Linked DNA regions of Homo sapiens: region 1 is linked to region 2. Evidence: fine-mapped expression QTL. A gene starts in region 2. The other region holds a variant in brackets. All regions are shown on one strand. Distances are between the middles of the regions.

Evidence for each region.
Region 1: its variant is fine-mapped to the expression of KLRD1 in whole blood (TOPMed, PIP 0.97).

Annotation. Positions count from the first base shown.
Region 1 is chr12:10,282,476-10,291,724 of GRCh38, forward strand. It overlaps LOC105369656 (a long non-coding RNA gene), which reads right to left and starts at 8,769. Exons shown (of 2, transcript XR_931353.3): 1 at 8,663-8,769. It also overlaps a transcript of KLRD1 not described here. The variant C/T (reference allele first, on the strand shown) is at 3,688.
Region 2 is chr12:10,304,284-10,313,532 of GRCh38, forward strand. KLRD1 (killer cell lectin like receptor D1) reads left to right here and starts at 3,587. Exons shown (of 6, transcript NM_002262.5): 1 at 3,587-3,801; 2 at 5,105-5,197; 3 at 5,343-5,405; 4 at 7,181-7,332; 5 at 9,127-9,230. The coding sequence starts at 3,795.

The DNA of each region.
Region 1 (9,249 bases), 22 kb before region 2:
CGAACTCCTGACCTCAGATGATCCGCCTGCCTCAGCCTCCCAAAGTGCTGGGATTACAGGTGTGAGCCACCACATCTGGCAAATAAAAATATAATTACTATAAAGTTCATATATAGTATTATGTTTAAAATGGTATGCCACTTTATATTTTGGCTTTAAGTTATTGGTCCTGTGACTGAACTTTGGCTTCTTTCTCTTTTGTAAGAAATATTGTAGAGCATACATAATGATGTGGGTACAAAGTTAGAAGATGTGTTCAAGGAAGGCATTCCAAAGGAGGTGTCATTTGAGTAATGTCAAATGAGCGACGTTTGACGTAGAGAGTCTCTAAAATATTTGAGCAAGGAACTGTTCAAATAGTGGACAGTCTCTACAACCTAAGACTGAATGGTTTGTTTGAGAAGTAGCATTGGGGCTAGATCAGAGGGAGGGACTGAGCAGAAATAGGTAGAAATAAAGACAGAGAAATTGTCAGGGAAACAAGAGTGTAGTAGATATTATTCAAGGTAGGTTGATGTATTCGTGAATGTCCAGGCAGGAAAACAAATTCTGTGCCAAGTCATTACATAGAGGGAAGTTAACAGAGGAGGGTATTTATCAAACAGTTGGAGAAATCTAAGAGTCCGTCAGGAGAAAGAAGACAATTCAGATATGGGCAAAACAGAAAGCTGGTACTATTCCCAGAGCTAGAGGAAACAAGGGAGCAGGTGGGTTTACCAGAACCACTTGATGGGGACTGGCACCACAGTGGCTGGTGCCTGCCACGAGGCAGTTGCTATTTGGCAGCAGTTCAAACAACATAGCATGAGGGAAGGACAAAAACACGATTCCATTTGTATGAGGCATCTAAAATAGTCTAATTCATAGAAGCAAGGAGCAGAATAGTGGTTACCAGGGACAGTGAGGAGCGGAGAGTGGGGATAAGGTTTTAGTAATGCAAAATGAGTAAGCTCTAGAGATCTGCTGTACAACATTGTGCCTAGACTTAACAATATTGTATTGTACATTTCAAAATTTGTTAATAGAGTAGATCTCATGGTGTATTCCTATCACAATAAAATAAATATTAAAATTAAATAAAACAGACCAGTACATAGCATGTGTGGTCACTGCAGGAGATAAAGCCTGAAGCAGAGAGGGGAAAGACAAAATAACAGGCTTCTCCCCTCTTCCTACCTTCCAAATCTCAACCCAGTGGCTCCATTGACTCCACCTACCTGGAAGCTGGTTAGCCATGGAGGTGGTGAAACATGTGTTGCAGGAATCAGCACCCCAAGAAACAAGCAGAACAGGGGAAAACCAGGGAGGACAAAGAGAAAAGTGACTGACAGAGTGGAAGAAACCAAATCTATCAATGCATAGAACCATTATATTTTGGGAGAGATACTTCTCATACTCAATCAAAAGTAAGACTTGTTGGCTGGGCATGGTGGCTCATGCCTGTAATCCCAACACTTTGGGAGGCCGAGGTGGGCGGATCACCTGAGGTCAGGAGTTCAAGACCAGCCTGGCCAACATGGTGAAATCTCATCTCTATTAAAAATACAAAAAAAAAAAAAAAAATAGCTGGGCATGGTGGTGGGCGCTTGTAATCCCAGCTACTCAGGAGGCTGAGGCAGGAGAATCACCTGAACTGGGAGGTGGAGGTTGCAGTGAGCCCAGATCGCACCAGTGCACTCCAGCCTGGGTGACAAGAGTAAAACTCTCTCTCAAAAAACAACAGTAACAACAACAACAACAACAACAAAAGACTTGTTAACACAATATTCTGTGAAGAGATTCAACTTACCTTGTCCAATCTATACATAGGTTTACTATAACATGTGTGTAAAATCACTCAGATAAATTATCAGTATGAAACCACATGTGGAGGGGCTCAGTAAGTGGGGAATAGGTGTTTTGAACAAAGAATTGAGTATAATTTAATCCACATACTGACACAGGAGATAAGTCCCCAGTTCTTTATCCATAAGGCTAAAAACCAAATCTCTGTAAACAAAATGTTTTCATTAGTTTGGTTCCAAAACCTGAACTTAGCTAATCATAGTTTTTGTTTTATACATTTTGCTGTGGAAATATTAATGTGCTGGGTTATAGCGTGAATCATCAAATGCCAATGAGGCTGTTAATTCATGTATGTATAAACACATATATTTTAAAATAAAAACTAATAAATTTTAAAGTACATTTCTCTCCACAAATTTCAGATAAGAAATTAGGGTCTCTGGGCCAGGCACAGTGGCTCACACCTGTAATCCCAGCACTTTGGGAGGCCAAGGCGGGCAGATCACCTGAGGTCAGAAGTTCGAGACCAGCCTCAACGTGGAGAAATCCCGTCTCTACTAAAAATACAAAATTAGCCGGGCATGGTGGTGCATGCCTGTAATCCCAGCTACTCAGGAGGCTGAGGCAGGAGAATTGCTTGAACCTGGGAGGCGGAGGTTGCGGTGAGCCCAGATCGTGCCATTGCACTCCAGCCTGGGCAACAAGAGCGAAACTCCATCTCAAAAAAAAAAGAAATTAGGGTCTCTGTATCCTACACATCATTTAGTTTCCACTTAAAAGTTTTTAGATGTATGGTGAGAGAACTATATATAAAAGAACAATCTATGCCCTATTCCTGTGAGATTTCTCTTCATTATCTGGCTCTACTGATGTTGCCAGTGTACCATGCTAGCAATGTTGCATATTAACCTGGAGTAAAATATCATTTCTGTATTTTCAAAATTCTTTACTACTATTTATAAAATAAATTCTTACCTTTAGATTGTGTTGTTGCTAAAATTGAAATTTAAGTAGAGAGTCGTGTGACTGATAAAAATGGGTTCCTTCTTTTAAAAACAGTCTGTAAAACCACAGCCAGTCAAGTCACGTTTATTCTAGAAATTATTTTTGCCATATGCTAGTTTTCTTTTCCTCTCATGTGAACCATCTTTATGTCTAGTCTGAAAAATTCCTGTTACAGTCACCATTCTGTCATGATAAGGGTTCTGAAATAACTCAGGGACAAACCATTCCTTTCTTTAAGCTTCCAATATGAAATAAGTCCTTTGTGTATCAATAGTCACCAGGATAATTTTTCACATGGTTTTATTTAACATCTTTCTTCATGGTACCTTAAAGTTGTTTTTTTTGTGTGTCTTTACCTGCCCATTATTTCCACCTACAAAACACGCTATCTCTAAGCACATTATCCGAAGAAAATTCCAGTTAAAAATCATCTCATAGAAAATATGACTAGTATTTACAGTCCAGTCAATGCTTTATGATTCTTATGTTATTTTTTCTTTGTGATTGACTCTTTCCTATTCCCTCCTCTTCTCTTAACAGGTAAATATTGTCACAGCTCTAAGTTTAGTAATGTTTCCTATGTTTACACTTGCTGGAATAACAAAAATAGCGCAGCTACAGTGCTAGTGATCAGCCACATCCATGCTTGTAAACCTCAGTTCTGGTCTCTTCTCTCCTCCTTAAGCTGTGTCTTCTGCTTTTTGCCCAGGTAAATTGCTTCAACTCCCAATATTGTTTGCAACAGCATCTTACTGTTTTCGCCAGACACGCCATTTCCTCTACCCATTACCCATCCACTTTATCCCCAACATCCTGCGGCCACACCAAGACCAGTGTAGGTGTTAACTGTTATTTTAGGCAGCAGCAACTCTGTGGTTGGAAACATTCTGTACCATA[C/T]GGTGTGATGTGTCAGCCACACCTGTTACACATAAAGTGTACTGATGACTGAGGTCTCACAGGGGTCCAGGGTCATATCAGAGTCCGGAGATTTCCGTGAAAGCTTAAAGTTCAGTCTGCAAACTCACTGTAACTAATAATGAATAGCTTATGTCCTATCTACCTCAATATGTTTCTTAATGGTTTTGAGCACTAATTAGGTGTTAAATACCCTATATGTTTATACATTAAACCATTCTCAGAACATATTTCCAATAAACTATTTAGTTGCATTTTACGTTTTACACATGATGGAAAAGAATCTTAAAGGGGTTATGTAACCTACTCAAGTTTACGATCTACCAAAAGCAGAATCAAACATTTGAAACTACTCACTTTTGACATCTTGTATTTAGCAGATTGAAGAAGCAGAAAGAATAATTACCTGATAAGGATTGATTAGAAATTAGTTTTGAATGCAAAATAGTCTTTGAATCATCATTTTATTTCGCTTATGGTGCTTTTTTTTTTTTTTTTTTTTTTTTTTTATAGAGACGGGATCTCACTTTGTTGCCCAGGCTGGTCCCAAACTCCTGAGATCAAGTCATGCTCCCATCTTGGCCTCCCAAAGTGTTGGAATTACAGGCATGAGCCACCGCATCTGGTCCCGTAACTGTTTACATTCAGTTTTGTTCTTATAAAGAACCTCACTGGGCACCAGGTGCAGTGGCTCACACCTGTAATCCCAGCACTCTGGGAGGCGAGGCAGGGGGATCACCTGAGGTCATGAGTTCGAGACCAGCCTGGCCAATGTGGCAAAACCCCATTTCTACTAAGAATACAACAATTAGACGGGCGTGGTGGTGCGCCTGTAGTCCCAGCTACTCAGGAGGCTGAGGCAGGAGAATCGCTTGAACCCGGGAGGCAGAGGTTGCAGTGAGCTGAGATTGTACCACTGCACTCCAGCCTGGGTGACAGAGTGAGACTCTGTCTCAAAACAAAAACAAAACCCTCTTTTTTTTTATTGTTTATCTGTTTGTGTTTTTTTGATGATTAAAAACCGTGGTGAAACTGTACCTAAAAGCAAAGATGGATATGCATTGTAAGGCACAGGTTTGAAGTTAGACAGCCATGGGAGAATGCAAGGGTATGTATGAGATTGGTATAGTCAATAAGTATTTGCTGGTATTTGTTTCATACACAAATACATGCATATATACAAATAACTCCGAATTTTTTTTTATTTAACACTCAGACCTCTCACAGATAGGTTGCAAAAAAATGTTATACAAATAATGAGAGCATTTCCTCCCATGAAACCTAACTTCAAACAAATCCAAATAAATTCTAAGTTTTAAAAAAGACCATCCATTTTGGTGCCAACATCCTTTTCAAGTGAATTATTTATATACTGAAGTATTATAAAACCTATAAATAGATATTGTTATATATAAACAGATACTTTTACGAATTAAATTATGCTTCTTAGAAGACAGAAGCATGAAATGGAGAAACGAGGAAATAAAATATGTAACTAAAAATTTGCTAGGACTTTAAAAACCACCCCTAGGTTATACAAAACTACGGGGATAACTTAGTTTAATTATCTGTCTAAATACGGATTTTTACCTCTGTAAGAAAGATCAGGCCAGGCGCAGTGGCTCATGCCTGTAATCCCAGCACTTTGGGAGGCCGAGGCAGGCGGATCATGAGGTCAGGAGATCGAGACCATTCTGGCTAACATGGTGAAACCCTGTCTCTACTAAAATACAAAAAATTAGCCGGGCGTGGTGGCGGGCGCCTGTAGTCCCAGCTACTCAGGAGGCTGAGGCAGGAGAATGGCGTGAACCTGGGAGGCAGAGCTTGCAGTGAGCCGAGATCGCACCACTGCACTCCAGTCTGGGCGACAGAGCGAGACTCTGTCTCAAAAAAAAAAAAAAAAAGTACAAAAATTAGCCAGGCATGGTGGTGCGTGCCTGTAATCCCAGCTACTCAGGAGGCTGATGGAGGAGAATCGCTGGAACCCAGGAGGTGGAGGTTACAGTGAGCCGATATTGCGCCACTGCACTCCAGTCTGGACAACAGAGCGAGACTCCGTCTCAAAAAAAAAAAAAAAGAAAGATCAGTCAGTACATAGTCAAGTACGTGTGCATGCATATATATGCATATGTATACATTATGTAAATATGTTGTAATTATTATATAATAAACCTACATTCAATATATCTGTGGCAATTTATCTATCTAAATTTGAACAAAAACTAAAAATTCCCAGCACAATCGAGGCAAAATAAAATATAATTTTCTTACAGTTATGCAAAATGACTCTCTAGATTTTAATCCGTTAGAGGTAGAGGTAGACAAAGGTTAGTGAGACTCAGCTTGACCACTGCTTGGTTGACTTTGAGCGTGTTTCCTTGATAATCTCCTGTGTCTTCAACTATGAAATTTAAGAACTATTACTATCAATATCATAGGGTTTATGAAGATTAGATGAAGTAAAAGTTATAAAATAATCAAACACAGAGCCTGGCATAAAGTAAACTCAAAAATTTTTAATGGTTTTATACATAATCATTAAATATCAATTATAGACTACATACATCACTATGAAAGAATTAGAGGTAAATTATAAAATATTAGCAATAATCCTTTATAAGACTCTTTTTTTAAGATTTACTTCAGGCTACTGGAACTTGAGAATGTATAAAGTGTTTAATGCGTACCAAATGAGTGTCTAGTCACAAAATGTTAGAAGGTGAGTTGGTTAGTCTGATAGAGTTTTACTGATCTGATTCTTCATCTCCTGTTTGAGTATTTATGTGTCTTATTATTCTGAGTTAGGGCATCCTTTTACCTCCTGTGTCTCTTTTTCTTTATGCCCAAGTTCCATCGGCAGATACTGACCATAGAGCTTTGCAATGTAGACAGTTTTGCCTAAAGGCTAAGACAGGGGCTCAGTTCCACTTCACTGACACTTAGTGACATTACGCGGGCTTTGGAATTTAGGAAGTGACCAATATGTTGACTTTGGTTTGTTATTTCAGAATGAGAACCCTAAAGGCCACCCAACAGTTCACCACAGAGAAACTTGTTTCCAGCCACATAGGAGTTGACAAGCTGCAGCTGCAGCTGAGCTCTTTGCAGCTCTTTCATGAGGTTCTTACACCTTGCTAGGTCCTATATAAAGGACTAACCTATTATTTAGAAAAGATACACATTAAGGACTCTAATTAAGAAATTTTGAAACGAGTTATGTTTTCTCCATTCTGGCTTCATAAACTTCTTTCTATGCTAAACAATCAGGGAAACTGTCAATGTTTTATTCAAAATGTATGTTGCTAATTCTGTGACCACTATTTGCACACTTCTTTTACTACATAAACATGTCACTTTGTAAATAGCTACTGGGCAGTGTAGATTTACTTATATGCATAACTTGAACATTATTTTGTTTCTTTCGGAGTCTGCCTATTCCCGAACCACATGTGGAATTGGTAGTTGCTTTGGTTTGGTTTGTTTATTTGCTTATTTCTTTTAGTGGGAAGCAGTTTTCTGGATTCTTTTAACTTGATACAGATGCAAAAAGGGGAAATGTTTGTGTAATGTATCTGGTCCATATCCATAATTGAATTTGTAATTTTTTTTGTGTGTGTGACAGAGTTTCATTCTTGTTGCCCAGGCTGGAGTGCAGTGGTGCAGTCTTGGCTCACTGCAACCTCCGCCTCCCAGGTTCAAGCGATTCTCCTGCCTCAGCCTCCCGAGTAGCTGGGATTACAGGCATGCACCACCACACCCAGCTAGTTTTGTATTTTTAGTAGAGATGGGGTTTCTCCATGCTTGTCAGGCTGGTCTTGAACTCCCGACTCAGGTGATCCGCCCACCTCGGCCTCCCAAAGTGCTGGGATTACAGGCGTGAGCCACCCCATCCAGCTGAATTTGTAATTTTTAGTTAAAATTGAAACTGTAAAATGATACCATATTTGTAAGAACAACAACAAGGCAGTTTCCAACGCCCAAAATATAACTGCAAAGGCATTGGACAACGTAAATTAAAATGGTATGTTGAATAAGAACTGAAAGTCAACATAGCAAACATCTACCATGGCAAATATTTCCTTACTTGGATTGTAGCTACGAAATGGTCATCTCTACTCCTTGGGAAAGGCCAGAGCAAGACCTATAAAGTCCACTCTTAGAAAAGTTCCATGGATAGAATGACCAATAGGAAGCTGGCTATTTAATTTAAAATGATGTTAGGATCTTTAACTCTAGGAATAATCAGAGGTAGAAGGAATTTAGAATAATCAGAGGTAGAAAGAATTTAAAATGATTTCATATTGCTAGGTAAATCTGTGTGATCTTATTTATATTAAAGAAAGCATTGGACATAATAGAATGCCTGATACATGCACGCACAAACACACACACATTGAAATGAGACATACATGTCAAGCACTAGAATTGGCGTGTAATGTGTGCTCAATAAATGTTCACAACTCTCCCCTAATAAACAAACTTATTAAAATGAAAATTGGTAAATAAAGGAAAAGTTTCAGTATTTATCTTTAATAACCATGCTGCAGAGTAACAAAATAATTGGTGGCAAGTATTTTCTGGAATATAAAATCAGAGGTTATGTGATGATGGTTACATGAATTTACACATGATAAAACTGCATAAAATGACATATATATATATACACAAATACACACAAGCAAATGAATGGATATATAAAACTACTAAAATCTGAATAAGGTCTATGGATTGTACCAATGTCAATTTCCTGGTTTTGACATTGTACTCTAGTTATGTAAAATATAGGCATACCTCAGAGATACTGTGCACTCTGATCCAGACAACCACAAAAAAGCAATTATTGCAATAAAGCAAGTCACATGAATTTTTTTTGTTTCCCAATGCATGTAAATGTTTACACTGTACTGCAGTCTATTAAGTGTTCAAAATTATTATATCTAAAAAACAATGTACATACCTTGATTAAAAATATTGCCAGAAAATGTTAACAATCAGCTGAGCTTTCAGAGAGTCCTAGTCTGTTTCTGTTTCTGGTGGATCTTGCCTCATTGATGGCTGCTGACTGATCAGGGTGGTGGTTGTTGAAGGCTGGGGTGACAGTGGCAATTTCTAAAAATAAGACAACAATGAAGTTTGCTGCATTGACTGACTCTTCTTTTCACAAAAGATTTCTCTGTAGTCTATGATGCTGTTTCATTGCATTTTACCCACAGTAGAACTTTCAAAATTGGAATCAATCCTTTCAGACCCTGCCACTGCTTTATCAACTACATTTTTTGTAATATTCTAAATTCTTTGTTGTCATTTCAACAATGTTCACAACATCTTCACCAGGAGTAGATTCCATCCCAAGAAATGTCTCTTTCCTCATCTATAAAAAGCAGTTCCTCACCCATGAAAGCTCTGTCACAAGATTGCATCAATTCAGCCACATCTTTTTTTTTTTTTTTTAATCCTATACTATTTTAAGTTCCAGGATACACAAGCAGAACGTGCAGGTTTGTTACATAGGTATACATGTGCCATGGTGGTTTGCTACACCTA
Region 2 (9,249 bases):
ACCGTTTACACAAAAGGAGATGTTTTGGTTATGACACATCTCCATTTTATACTCAGATGGTTACATGGTTATGGTTACACATAGCTTATGTGACATTTTTCCAGGAAGCCAGCCTCCATAAACCCACAGATTCTAGTTTTATGCTTTTTTTTTATATAGTGTGTTTTGCTCTTGTCACCCAGGCTGGAGTGCAATGGTGCGATCTCAGCTCATCAAGTTCAAGAGACTCTAATGCCTCAGCCTCCCAAGTAGCAGGGGTTACAGGTGAGTGCCACCATGCCCGACTAATTTTGTATTTTTAGTAGAGACAGGGTTTCTCCATGTTGGCCAGGCTGGCCTTGAACTCCTGACCTCAGGTGATCCACCTGCCTTGGCCTCCAAAAGAGCTGAGATTACAGGCGTGAGCCACTATGCCCAGCCTTAGTTTTATTTTTTTATTTGATTTTACCACTAACAATTTTAGACAATCTAATACATCCTGCTAAAATCATTCCATTGATAAGGATTTTGCAAGCAAAACACACTATATATAAGAAACCACTATAGCTAGTAGGTTTGTTATTAGCATGTTTACAATGAGATTTTACCAGGTCAGTAACGTCTTTTGTTTTTTCTCAGGGAGCCCTCTCTCTCTGTTAAAAGAATAATTTGCAGCCTGATGTGAGCAATTTTCTTTCCGCTCAAAGAATGCATTTTCTAAAAGCAGTGAGATCAAAATAAATTTTTCCCTTGGGGATACTAGAACGTATACTGTTATTTTGTTCTGCAACATTTTAGTTATACATTTTTAGGTAGGGAAAAGACTTCACTGTTTATATGTTAAGTGAACATTAGTTTCTTTTCCCTGGCTTTTGACTAAGGTTTAAAAGTTGACTTAGCTATTGAAGTCATCACTTGCTCTTACCAAGGGCACTAGTAAATTGCAGGGGAGGAAGAGGGCATCTTCCTGCAATGGATACTAGGGGATGGAAAGTCCTGCAAAGAGAGACGTTCTTTTGGCAGGATACCTAACTTTTCAAAAGCAAATTTATGTAAGTGAAGCTGGATATTTCAGCGGAATTTAGTCTGGTTTCTCTCGGCAGCACACTCAGAGAATACTTTGAGTAGAAACTTTATTTGGAATTGTGTATGCAATAAATGTAGGAAAGGAAATGTAATAGGAAAGGGAAAGTGGAACGCAATAAAGGTTATTTTCTTAATCTAGCTTCTAGAGGAGGTGACTGGAACATAACACTATTGAGTAATTCTGGGAACTGGGCAAAACACAATGTTCAGAATTACCTGACTTTAGGGCTGAGACTGCTGGACTGTATAGCAAATCACAAGATTCGTTTGTTGACGCCCATTCTGGTGATGATTATTCAGCACTTCCGGATTAGCATGTCTGAGAACAGCAAGGCTTTCAGCAGTTATTGGAGAAAAAAAGAACCCATAGATACAGCTATACAGATAACTAGTTGGCCATAGTTCCCCAAATATTCCAAGGGACATAGGCGAGGCAATGATAACTTCAGGAACAAGTGGAGATGAGTGGGAGAGATACAGTACATGGAAATCATTCACCTGTCTACGTACAAAAATAAATAGAAAGAACAGAGGCCGGGCACGGTGGCTCACGCCTGTAATCCCAGCACTTTGGGAGGCCGAGGCGGGCGGATCACGAGGTCAGGAGATCGAGACAATCCTGGCTAACACGGTGAAACCCCGTCTCTACTAAAAAAAAAAAATACAAAAAATTAGCTGGGCGTGGTGGCGGGAGCCTGTAGCCCCAGCTACTCGGTAGGCCGAGGCAGGAGAATGGCGTGAACACGGGAGGCGGAGCTTGCAGTGAGCCGAGTGAGCCACTGCACTCCAGCCTGGGTGACAGAGACTCCATCTCAAAAAACAAACAAACAAAAACAAACAAAAAAAGAACAATCAGAGTTGGCAGCTCAGAAAGAGTTAAAGAGGTATATACATATATGTTTACTGTGTGTGTGTATGTGTGTGTGTGTGTGTGTGTTTAGGTATCTTAAATATTTAAGCCTGGAGTTCTTGAAGTAAACTTGTATTTGTTGGATTTTTATTTCTAAGTCAGTGAACTAAGATGAAAAAAAGGACAATGACTGATGGACGTATTCTCACCAAACAGGGTTCTAAAAACTTAGAACCTCTAACTTCCAAATAAAGGTGGTTGTGTTAGTAATGAAAGTGTAGTAATAATCCCTATTGCACATTCTGTCATAAATTTGTACTCTCTCAAGAGAAAAACTAAAAGCAAACCCCTAATCTCCTATATTTTGAGGCAATTTTACATGGGGGAAAAATAGTATCAGACAGGTTTCTTCCAGACCAGCTTTTTCTAACACTAAAAATGAATAGATTTCAAGTAAGCAAAGGATTTTTAAATAAATCACTTCAACTAAGATTTGCATACAGTCTGGATGAAGTAGATTTTACGCTTATATTCTTCAGTGAGGATTTATAGCTCAACAAATTTGTTGGTGCAATGAAAGCAGCTCTAGGCACACAATGCAAACTGAAAAGATGGAAAGTTTTGACTTCATAAAAACTGAGAAGTCAAAGTAGTCTTTTCTTTCATTTTTTTCTGTTGTTGGTTGAAAGCCCATCTTTTACAAAAGGGTTTATCTATAGTAATATTATAATGCTTGAACATAAACAATATACAAAATATAATACACAAAACGTTTATTTGAGTGTCTGCTTTTGTATGGGGGTGCATGGTAGATTGTATTTCCAGATACTAAATCATGGATCGAAATCTCTCCTTTCAAGATTCTTATTATAGCCAATCTCTTCCACATTGGAAATTTGACCTGTTCCACATTTGATATTCCTATTAACAAGGTTACTCTTCTGTAGATGAAAAAGTGTATATCGAAGTATCAGTATAGTATCTGAATTAGATAACACACTAAACAATATAATAATGTATTAGTAAAAATAAGGAAAATAAAGAAGCTGAAGTCGTGCTTAAAGAACTTTAAGAAAATGAAAATTGAGGTGTTGAAAAAAGCTTTTAAGGCTAACGTGAATGAGGCGTCCAAGTGGGAAACCCATCCAGTTCTACTTTTTTGAACTTTGCCTGTCGTGGCCAGGATAATTAGGTAGAGATCAGAAGAACAGAGTGAGACATGGAAATCCCAATTTATGTGACCTTGGGCAAATTACTTAGCTCTGTATGCCTCAGTTTTCTCTTTGATAGATTGAAGATATTTATATATCTTTACTATCAAGCCATTTACAGAAATAAATGAGCTAAGATATGCCAAGTGCTTTAAATTGTGTTAAGTACAAGGTAAATAATAAATGTTTATTATTAAAAGAGGAAAATTCTGTAAGTAATTTTGTTATGCTAAGTAAATTTACCTTTGGTTTGCCCATCATTTCCTTCATTTTCCAGATAACCCTTTAAAATGAATTTGATTTTCAAACAATAAAAAACAAAACAGCAACAAAACTCCCTCTGACCTCCTCTCACCTTCTTTAGTCCTTGCCAAAGTGTTAATATTGCAAAAGTACTGTGAGAATTTCCTGTATTGTGGTTCCTGGAACACTTCAGAGGCTTGTGATTCTACTGCTTCTTATTCACACTATAATACATGTCTCACCAATAGATGATTCAAGAACATCATTTAAATACACAATTTTTCATTCTCTATTTTTGCTAAATTTCTTCATACTCAACTTTCAGATTCTTTAATCTCCAGCTCAGCTTCAACAATTCAACGCTGTTCTTTCTGAAAAAGTACACATCGTGCCTTCTCTACTTCGCTCTTGGAACATAATTTCTCATGGCAGGTATGTGTGATTTCAGTCACTAAATTAAAAATAACCAGAAAAGCTATTTCTTGGATTGGCTGATTTTGGGGTAATGCTTTAAGAGAAAAGGACATGATTAACAGTGGATGTTTTTAGGATTTTCATGCATTAGCACTTTCCACATTCATTATATTTTCCTGATTCTTCATTGTATAACTTAGACATGATTTCATGAAGTTTTTTCCACAGGTTTGAAGAGTGGTTTCTGACAGGGCTACCTTTAAATTCTGAGTGAGAACTGAACTTTAGCCTGGTTAAATTGTGAGCAACAGTGTTCTAGTATAGCAATAGAAAATGCCAAATATTAATGACACAATGCTGAAAAGGTTTTAATTGACTATTTATGTTGTGACATCCAAAAATTACACAAATGAACAGTTTGACACATTGTACTGTTGTTAATGACATCACTCTTTGAGAGTGTGTTCACGTTAGCACAGAATCTCCTAATGTTGAAATGTTTTAGGTGAAAGGCCTAAAAGCAAGTAATTTTGAGTATGAACAAATGGAATGTTCTAGGGGAAAAAGGATTGTTTATGTATGTTCAATATACTGTGAAATGAAGCCAGGCCTCAAAGTTGTTACCCATCAATTTGTTATCAGTTATCACACCAAGTCCAGAATGTTCCTATGTCTTCTTTTCCCTATAATATCTCTACGAACCAATGAGCAGCTAGACATTTATCAGAGCAAAACCTGCACTGAGATGAGGAGAGGGCATACTCTCAACTAGTATTATTGTGACAATGGTAGACTACGTTGAATGAAAGATTCTTGAGCTAGACACACTTTCATGTGATTTCTGACTTGGATACTTACTTGCTTTGATACCTTGAGAAAATAACATTATTATTGGACCTTATGTTTTCTCATCTATGTAATGAGAACCATACTATCTATCTTGTGATTTTGTTGAGAGAATAAAAATAAATGCCTGTTATGTAAGTCCATAAAACACAACGTGGTGCTTGTTAATATCTTCTACCTCCAGATCTTTAAGCACCTCTGCCAATTTAAAATAAATGGTAAATTCACTTTACTGCAACAGAGCTGGTAGAGAAGAAAATGTTTGAATAATCTTCCTGAAGAATAAGATACATCACATAAAAATGTTGGTATTGGGTGAAGTCCCGATTGGAAAGTCTTCAGTGTTTTATTGGCAAGATGACTCCGTTATCAAATGAAAGAATGTTGTGGATTCTCCGTCACTAGTTTCTGCTTTTAAGAACTCAGCTCCTGAGTTTGCTCTTTAAGTCATTACTCTGTCTGTCTTTCTCTACAGTGTTTAAGACCACTCTGTGGAGGTTAATTTCTGGGACCTTAGGGATAATATGCCTTTCGTTGATGTCTACGTTGGGAATTTTGTTGAAAAATTGTAAGTTTTTCTAAGCAAGTCTCCATAAAAATCAAAACTGTGAAGACATCATTTAATAATAAAGGCTTCATCTTGCTAATGTGTAATATTTTAGTATTTCATAAACCCATACCTAATTAAACAAATTTCTAATCATTTCTTATAGCTTTTACTAAACTGAGTATTGAGCCAGCATTTACTCCAGGACCCAACATAGAACTCCAGAAAGGTAGGTCACATTTTTTGGAAAACTTAGCATTGGTAAAAGATTAAATAGGCAGTTTCTTGTTTTTCACACAGAGAGGCATGATGGAATATTATACTTAGTAATAGAAATTTGCCTACCAGTGTAGGATAGTCTCATTTTACATTGCTCAATCTAATGTAAAAATGATTAAATTACACTGAATGTGTATCATTTGTACATTTAACTAATCAGGAAAATAGTAGCCTGAAACGAAAGATATGTTTCCTATATGAGTGCTCATAATTAAGTAACAAAAAATAAACCACAGGAAATGTTACAGTTAATCCTCATTACCTGCCTGAATTTGCTTATAACCTATACTTTTGCATCTCACTACTTTTCCTTTTCCAGAATATACTGCACAGATTTCTAAACCTTACTTATCCAGTGAAAGCCAGCTCAAAGTCCAATTTTCGTTTTTGGAGATGGAGTTTTGCTCTTGTCGTCCAGGCTGGAGTGCAGTGGCACGATCTTGGCTCACTGCCACATCAGCCTCCCTGGTTCAAGTGATTCTCCCACCTTCCTGCCTCAGCCTCCCAAGTAGCTGGGACTACAGGCGCCCGCCACCATGCCCAGCTAATTTTTGTGTTATTAGTAGAGTCAGGGTTTCGCCATGTTGGCCAGGCTGGTCTCGAACTCCTGACCTCAGGTCATCCACCTGCCTCGGCTTCCAAAGTGTTGGGATTATGCCGTACCCAGCAGAGCCACTGCGCCCGGCCTCAATTTTCTAAATATGTATTTTTCGGAATGCGCCCCAAGTTGTCTCACCATCATCTTGATTATATAGTGTTTATTTACAGTGCAACATCTTGGCCAGGCACAGTGGCTCACGTCTGTAATCCCAGCTCTTTGGGAGGCTGAGGTAGGCATATTACTTGAGGTCAGAAGTTCAAGACAGGCCAACCCCGTCTGTACTAAAAATACAAAAATTAGCCAGGCATGGCGGCACGCACCTGTAGTATCAGTTACTCAGGAGGCTGAGGCATGAGAATCACTTGAACCTGGGAGGCGGAGGTTGAAGGGAGCTGAGATGGTGCCACTGCACTCCAGCCTGGGCAACACAGCAAGACTCTGTCTCAAAAACAATTAAAAAATATAAAAATAATAGTGCAACATCTTCAGCACTACTTATATGGCAAAGATTTGAGTGCCTATGACGTGTCATGTTTTTATTACCGTGGGTAACAAACGTTGAAGACACTATTATTGATAAACTGTATAATTAAGCCTCAAGATAATTGGTTTATTTATATTCCCTTTTCAAAAATAAGATATCCAAACATATATCAAAATTCTCCAAATGTACCATATTCTTTTCTGACTCAGAAAGTATGCTAAAATGTTTTCCTCCTTTAAATCTTTTTCATCTAGTTAACTCCTATTTATGCTACAGTACTTAGTTTTGAGTCACTTCCTCAAAAAAAGGTTCTTGTAACTGCCCCTCATCTTACACTCTGCTACATGCTGTTTTAACATACTTAATTTTTTTGTACTTATCTAAATCATCACTAAATATCGTTAATAAATTATTGAAAATTATATAATTGTAATTCTATCTCTAGAATATAATCTCCATGAGGAAAAAGCATCATGTTCATGTCTAATTAGTTCACATTAGTAGCCCCTGAAGTGTGGTGTATACAGTAGATTCTGAATGTTAAAAGAATACACAGCAAATAATTTTTGAATAATTAAATAGCATTGAAAAAAATGTCTAGTCTCCAGTGTCATTAGTCATGCTTTATGTTTTCTGTCAGACTCTGACTGCTGTTCTTGCCAAGAAAAATGGGTTGGGTACCGGTGCAACTGTTACTTCATTTCCAGTGAACAGAAAACTTGGAACGAAAGTCGGCATCTCTGTGCTTCTCAGAAATCCAGCCTGCTTCAGCTTCAAAACACAGATGAACTGGCATGTGCTGAGTCTGATTTTCTACATTTTCTTTGATCTAGAAAAATATACTATCTAAACAAGTTAAATACTTTGGTTTAAGTCATTAATCACATAGTAAGTGGATGGTTATATTGGAATTGAGTTATCTGTTCTGTGTACCTTAAAGTAGTCATTGTAAAATCTTTATTAAATTCCTTAATGATTATATCATGGGAATACAAATCAAGATAGGTGCCAAATAAAGTGAAAGAAACTTTTCAGGAAGAATTCAAAGAAGATAATAGGTCATTATATTTACCCATTTTATTTGAAGAACCAACTAAATGACTGTGATTCTTAACTCTTTTAATTGAATTTATAATATCTTTTATAATTTTATAGTTTTTGTCATCTTTCTGGGATATAAGCTAGTATGGAAATATGGTAAGAAAACGTACCCAATTCTTTTCTTTTCTTTTTTTTTTTTTTTTTTTGAGACAGAGTTTTACTCTGTTGCCCAGGCTGGAGTGCACTGGTGCAATTTCAGCTCACTGCAGCCTCCACCTCCTGGGTTCAAGTGATTCTCCTGCCTCAGCCTCCTGAGTAGCTGGGATTACAGACACCTGCCACCAGGCCTGGCACTTTTTGTATTTTTAGTAGAGACAGGGTTTCACCGTATTGGCGAGGCTGGTCTTGAACTCCTGACCTCGGGTGATCTACCCTCCTTGGCCTCCCAAAGTGCTAGGATTACAGGCATGAGCCACCGTGCCTGGCCCTAATTACCCAATTCTTTTTTGTTTGTTTGTTTGTTTGTTTGTTTGAGATGGAGTCTCGCTCTGTCGCCCAGGCTGGAGTGCAGTGGCGTGATCTTGGCTCACTGCAAGCTCCTCCTCCCGGGTTCACGCCATTCTCCTGCCTCAGCCTCCCGAGTAGCTGGGACTACAGGCGCCCACAACCACGCCCAGTTAATTTTGTGTATTTTTAGTAGAGACGCGGTTTCACCGTGTTAGCCAGGATGGTCTCGATCTTCTGACCTCATGATCTGCCCACCTCTGCCTCCCAAAGTGCTGGGATTACAGGCGTGAGCCACCGTGCCCGGCCCCTAATTACCCAGTTCTTAAGAAAAAGTGCGGCCGGGCGCAGTGGCTGAAACCTGTAATCCCAGCACTTTGGGAGGCCGAGGAGGGCGGATCACAGTCAGGAGATCGAGACCATCCTGGCTAACACGGTGAAACCACGTCTCTACTAAAAATACAAAAAATTAGCCGGGCGTGGTGGCGGGCGCCTGTAGTCCCAGCTACTCGGGAGGCGGAGGCAGGAGAATGGCGTGAACCTGGGAGGCAGAGCTTGCAGTGAGCTGAGATCGTCCCACTGCACTCCAGCCTGGGCGACAGAGCAAGACTCCCTCTCAACAAAAAGAAAAAAGAAAAAGCGAAAAACTTCTCCTGCTGCACGTGGCACCTTTGCGGATTATAGGTTGAGTAGATTATACCCATGGGATTCCTCCTTCACAATACCATGATTTTGGAATCAAATTTAATCTTTGATCCCCCGTGAAGAAAGTGTTCCATGAAAACTCTATCTCCTTTTAGAAGGTTTTTAATTCTTCAGGAAGTGAGATTTTGTGGTATTTTTTCTCCATATATGAATGGGCCTGATAAATGAGAACTTTCAGTCTTGTGATTATACCTTTTAAATAGGAAGTTAAAAATAATTTCCGTTTGTGTGATGGACAGGCTGAATCTTATTCTAAACACTGACTTTCCCTCAAAATATGTTATTCCCAGAATAGATTAAAATTAGATTAATGTGATTGTCTTTTACTTGAAGCAGGATTTTATGAGCTCCAGTCAACAATTTTACTGGATTGGACTCTCTTACAGTGAGGAGCACACCGCCTGGTTGTGGGAGAATGGCTCTGCACTCTCCCAGTATCTGTAAGTTTCTGGCAATCAT